Linked DNA regions of Homo sapiens: region 1 is reported to be linked to region 2. Evidence: microRNA targets listed by miRTarBase, many of them from high-throughput screens and not tested one by one. Region 2 holds a microRNA gene; the other region holds the end of a gene's coding sequence.

What was found. Region 2 holds the annotated microRNA hsa-miR-5681b (AGGUAUUGCCACCCUUUCUAGU, at 1,647-1,668, opposite strand). A microRNA usually pairs through its seed, bases 2 to 8, with sites in the 3' UTR of a target mRNA and lowers its output. Matches are read on the target gene's strand: a 7mer-m8 pairs with bases 2 to 8, a 7mer-A1 pairs with bases 2 to 7 and ends in A, and an 8mer does both.
Region 1: miRTarBase lists POU2F3 as a target of hsa-miR-5681b. Seed matches in the 3' UTR shown: 7mer-A1 at 1,670-1,676.

Annotation. Positions count from the first base shown.
Region 1 is chr11:120,317,926-120,321,049 of GRCh38, reverse strand. It overlaps POU2F3 (POU class 2 homeobox 3), which reads right to left. Exons shown (of 13, transcript NM_014352.4): 13 at 1,105-2,697. The coding sequence ends at 2,658. Among named protein-coding and RNA genes, the nearest start is that of TLCD5, 5.8 kb to the left of the region's middle.
Region 2 is chr8:74,546,938-74,550,061 of GRCh38, forward strand. It overlaps MIR5681B (microRNA 5681b), which reads right to left and starts at 1,672; the gene lies at 1,613-1,672. It overlaps MIR5681A (microRNA 5681a), which reads left to right and starts at 1,606; the gene lies at 1,606-1,680.

The sequences.
Region 1 (3,124 bases), not on the chromosome of region 2:
CTCTTGCTGTCTCTTTGCTACATACCTGGCCCCTTTTAACTAGATATTTTCTTGAGAAAGTAAACATTACCATTAGGCCTTCTCCCACTTCATGACGTGAAATAGGAATTTTTAAAGCCCCATTCAAACATCAGGGAGCGGTTAACTCTTCATTATTAATATTTAGGTTTCCTGTGTGGATATTATTATTTGCAAGAAGTGTTTAATCCTAATTTTAGTTTTTCCCCATCAGCCATTACATTTTTGAAGGGCCTCTCTTTCCCACAGGTCAGCGTTTATCTCAGTAATGGTAACTATTTATTACTTATTTTATTTTTTGAGACGGAGTCTCGCTCTGTCGCCCAGGCCGGAGTGCAGTGGCACAATCTTGGCTCACTGCAGGCTCCAACGGTAACTATTTAAATTTGTATTAATCTAAGAAAAAACACAAGAATAGGTTTGCTGCCTTTCAACCTCCTAACCAAAAGTCACAATGCATTCTGAAGCCATATATATATATATATATATATATATATATATATATATATACATGAGACAAATATGTATATTTGAGACAGGGTCTCACTCTGTTGTTCAGGCTGGAGTGCAGCGGCATGATCATTGCTCACTGCAGCCTTGACTTCCTGGGCTTAATAGATCCTCCCATCTCAGGCTCTTCAGTAGCTGGGACTACAGGCATACACCACCAAGCCCAGCTAATATGTGATTATTAAATTACCCTCTGCCTTAACTATTTATTGCTTTATGTTGTGAGTAATGAACAACTGCCGTTCAGGGTATCTGAGACATGAGACATTAGCCTCAGTCCCCACCTCTTAAGTTTCAAATGACTTCACCTTAAACATTCACCATCCTCCCACTTACAATATCTCTGGCCTACTCTGCCCTCAAGGTAGTTATGTTACAGAGAGTAACAACTCTGAATTCTTCAGGGCCCTGTAATAACATATGTCATCTTTAGCATCAGTTTGGGGAGTAATACACTTAATGTCCCAATTTGAAACATTTTCTGTCATCCCATTTCATTATATGCACTCACATGCCCCCCACAACAACAAAAAGGCACAGAACAAGAATCTAAACCTCTTCTTATCAACAGTGGGATACTTTTCATAATCACTATACACATTTATTTAGGAACAGTGAGATTCCTTTGAATCTCAACAGTTTCCTAGACATGTAGTCTTTTTTTTTTTAAGTTACCATTTCTGGAATGGCTTCATGTTACATCTCTACAAACTGGCCCACAAAAAAGCAGACTCTAGAGATAATGTTCCCAAAGAAGTCAACAAAGATTCCCAGCCCAGGCCAGGCGCGGTGGCTCACACCTGTAATCCCAGCACTTCGGGACGCTGAGGTGGGTGGATCAGGAGGTCAGGAGTTCAAGACCAGCCTGACCAACATGGTGAAACCCCATCTCTACTAAAAATACAAAAATTAGCTGGGCTAATTTTTGGTGGTGGGCGCCTGTAATCCCGCTACTTGAGAGGCTGAGGCAGGAGAATCGCTTGAACCCAAGTGGCAGAGCATGCAGTGAGCCAAGATCATGCCACTGCACTCCAGCCTGGGCTGGAGCAAGACTGTCTCAAAAAAAAAAAAAAAAAAGAAAAAGAAAAAAAAATCCCAGCCCATGTGGGAACTCTGGAAGGTAGCACAGTATTTCACACTTTGGTATTTCCCCCCCTTTTTTTTAAAGAAGATAAAATATTACAGAGACATTTTCAAAAATCACACCTGAGTTAAACATTTTGCTGGAAAATTCCACATTAAGGAGTTAAGAACATAATGCAAAAAATGGGAAAGGGCTATATACAGGTACTTTGCCACCATCATTGTTGTGTGTTTGCTCTTGTGTTCTTCCTTTTCTGCTGCCAGGAGAAAGGAGAGGGGACAGGATAAAGAGAAACACAGGGAGGAAGGGAAAGAACAAGCACTCCTGAGCCCTAGGCAGACGTGGACAGACAGAAGGGCACCAGCAGGCGTTGCAACATGCCCAGGGCACCCACCAAGGGCAGCTCTTTTACACCTTCTGCAAAAAGGAGGGGACCTGGAGGGCGCAATAATGAATGGATTTGATTGTAGAAAAGGGGGCGAGGTTAAAAAGAAAATGGGGTGAGATGAAGATTCCATCAGAAAACTTAGCTGTACAGAGAAAACATCAAGGCTTTGGTGGAGATATCAGATTCAAATCTTTTCACAGATTTTGGGATCAGTTCAGGGGTTGTGGCCAAGTTCAGAGTCAAAACTATTATCTCCCCTTCTGGTGTTTGGCACCCCAGCCAAATGGCTGTCCCCAGAAGCCCACGGATGAGTTGGAGAATAACAGCAAGAAGTCTTTTCTCTGAAAGACTATTGCCACAGTGAAGCTGGCTAAAATATTTGGAACTAGAAGGCAAGGGCATAGGCAAGGAAGGTGAAAATGGTAAGCTCCTAGGAGGGGCTGTGTATTTCAAGAGCATTAGGAGTCTGCACTTGGTTCAATCACAGTTTGGATCTCCGGAGGCCCTTGCTCTTGAAGAAGACAAGAGTCTGGGTTCATTGATAGTGGAGATTTTCTTCCACTCTTCTGAAGGCAATCTGTCTGTATATAGAAGGCATGATTCCCTTCCTTCCAGGGGGAATACAGGGCCAGCTGGAGTAGGAGAAACTTTTTGGTCTCAGTGGAGGTAGGTGGAATGATTCCATCGGTACCAAGATCTGGAAGGAAGAAAGAAGTCAATCCTAAAGCTAATAATGTGATGGCGTAAGATGGGAATGGGGAGTGACTGCTAGCAGGTACAGGGGCTTTTGCAGGTAGGAGTAATAAAAACATCCTGGAATTAGATAACGCTGATGGTTGCACAACCTTGTGAATATACTAAAAACCACTGAACTGCACACTTTAAAACGGTGAATTTTATGGTATATGAATTATACCTCGAAACAATTTTTTAAAGCTGGTAATGTATATTATATGGTCCTCTTTCTCTCTCTCAGTAGGGGTAGGTGAGGAGCGCCAACGTTTCGGGCTATGCAACAATTGGCCAATAAGAACTGGCTGCCTTGCTGAACCGCCTGGATTTGGACAGCTGGGTTCATCTTTTCTGACGAACTCAGGTCTGTAACCTACACATCTCTGTGTTGT
Region 2 (3,124 bases):
CCAGCAGAACAAATGAGCCCAAATTTGCCGTGCTAATTAAATTATATGGGAGGCTTGGTGGTTACATCTTCCAGCTACCAAGTCCTGTCTGTTTGGACCAAGAATTCTCAAACCAGACTGAAAATCAGAATCACCTGTGTGCCTGGTCACACCCCAGAACAATTAAATGGAAGTTCCTGGGGTCTTGGGGATGAGATGAACATCAGTACTTTTTAAAGCTCCTAGGTGATTGCAGGGTGCAGCTGAAGCTATGAATCACTGACTTAGAGGGACCCAGCTGCCCTGGAAATATTGGCCTTTCAGCTGAAGAATAACTACAGATGTTTGTGGCAGACCATTTCCTCAAGGCAGTTTACTGAGCCCCATTGACTGTTCCCAGCAGTCACAATTGGGTTCTGTGGCTCATAGCCCATTGGTAGAATGTGTACAGCAGATGTTTGAATGACATTAACAAATGGAAGCCTCCAAATCTTTCCTTGTTTAACAAGTAACAGCAGGTCCTTGTTTAAATAGTGATCATTAGTGATCGACTTTAATCCTTCGATTATAAATCTCCCATTTCTTCTTCTCTTCTATAAACTAGCTGACCTTTGTGTGCACATTGTGGATGTGTGGATGGCAGCAAACTGGAATTTGGACTAATTGAGTTGTCAATCAGATTTCTGTGCACTCCATATCACGTAGTTAGTAAGACTGAAATTATGGAAGGTGGTTGATTATTCTAGACATCTGAAGGATTGTTCTGAGCTCAATCAATTTCTTCACCAGCTGTTCTCAGGGCCAAAATGCTGAAAACAGTGGATACCATTTGGGATATGGAAAGGCCAAAGTCAAATCCAACTTGGACTCGGCAAAATAGAAATAGTCCTTTTCCTCATGTACTTTTAAAGTTTAGTCACATTTTCACGATTATAAACTGTTACTTTGGGCAAAGGATTGTTTCCAAGAAGCCAATGAATTGCACATATACAAACAGGCTGTGTTTCGGATCCATTTGTAGGAAACATCTTCTCAGCCCTCTGCCTCTTATAACCCCTGTGGCTCCTTATTAATGCACCTGCAGGAGAGGCACACACTATGTCACTCAGCCCTGGCTGCACCCTCAGGCAGGTGGTGTGTGGGTGCTTTAGCAGCTCTTTGAAGAATGTGATGCAGAACCATGAGCTAATGAGGAGTGCTAGGCACTATCCACCTGCAACTGGAGCACAGTATACTGCTCAGCAAATGTCCACATCTAGCAAAGCGGCTGCCCTTTGTCCACACTCCAATTTAGACAGAAGGCAAATGAAAAAGGACACACACAAATTTTAGTTTTCATTCTCCTTGGAAACATTTCAAAAAACTAAATAAACAACTGCCTCCTCCTGTCCTCTACCTCCAGGCTCTTTGGGAGCAATCCCTTAAGCAATTGACGGTTCTTTGGGAGCAGAAATAAAGAGAAAGTGAAAATTCTGGCTTCCTTTTTGAACTACCTTAATCTGTGAGAGAAAAAAAAAAAACCCTAAGTGATATGATAGATGCAACAAGTCTATGTTTATCGTGATTTATTGTTCACAAAGGGCTTTATATAGATGATCTCATATATTCCTTACAACTTCCTTGTGAAGTTTTTGAAGAGTATTGCCACCCTTTCTAGTCCCTATTAGACTAGAAAGGGTGGCAATACCTCTTCCAAAAACTGAGACTTGTTGATATTAAGTGAGTTGCCTCAGCAGTCAATGGCACTTTAAAATGTGTTTTACCTATTTTGTAGGATTTTTCACATGTTGTTTTTAACAATGGGAAGGGGATAGCCACTAGAGATACCAATATACACTATTCTGAGCCAAAGAAGCCAAGTTAAAACATGCCTTCATGGCACTTGAATTCTTTATAAAGTAATTTTTGAAGTTGAATTGAGACTTCCTGTTTAGAAGCTTGATTATAAACTCTTGGCTAGTTCTCTGACTTGCACACTTGTGTTCTGCTATTCCCTGGTCCTGAGGCCAGCCTCAGTCCCCCAGGGTTTTCTATTTATAGACCTCTTTCCTCTTTACAATAAACCACTTATTACTTTGGGTCAACTTTCAACCAAACAAGTCTCATTCATATAGGGGTCCTAAGTGGCTTCATCCTCTTAAACAAAGGAAAACCAAGATGGAAACAAGACGGGGAGCATTACATTGACTTGTGAGCAGGTAGTGACCAATAACTAGTGGGTTTTCCCAAAAACACAAAACCAAGCAGATCAAGGTGAAAGGGGTGGGGAAGTGGTGCTGACAGTGGAGGAGAGGGTCTGAAATGATTTTCTTGCTTGTCTCCAAGCTCTCAAGATTTGCAGGTACAAGAGCTCATCCAGGGACCAAGTGCCATCTGTTCATTAGAGACCATGCACGCACCATGGGCCTTAGGAAGAAGAAAAGTCCACTGCAAAGGGATTCTAGAAAAACATAGGTATCGGGTCTTATATGCCATCTGGAAAATGCATAGTTTCCATGACTGTGGAAGTAAGAGGGTATCTCACAGGTCAAGACTGTCCAGGATGCTTCAGGGTTTGCTTGTAGTAAAAGTAATTTTTTTTTTTTTTGACGTGGACTCTTGCTCTGTCACCCAGGCTGGAGTGCAGTGGTGCAATCTTGGCTCACTGCAACCGCTGCCTCCCGGGTTTAAGCAATTCTCCTGCCTCAGACTCCCAAGTAGCTGGGACTACAGGTGTGCACCACCACGCCTGGCTAATATTTTGTATTTTTAATAGAGATGGGGTTCACCATGTTAGCCAGGATGGTCTCCATCTCCTGACCTCGTGATCTGCCCACCTTGGCCTCCCAAAGTGCTGGGATTACAGGCGTGAGCCATTGCACCTGGCCTAAAGTAATTTTTTTTAAAAGTTATTTGTTTTAAAACATTTTGTATTAATTACATTTATCGCCATGCTTCTGGAAAAAGGGTGAAAAAACACTTTGCACATTATCTGGGAAATTATATACAGTGTATTGCTGGAAGTAATGGGCTAAGGATCTATAATACAATATTTTTAGTAATTATGATAAAAGGAGAGAATATACACATTATAAGAAACAATACTTTTGGTATCATCTTTATGATAATGGTATTAGAATTTATTGTGAGTTCTGGGGATTCCTAT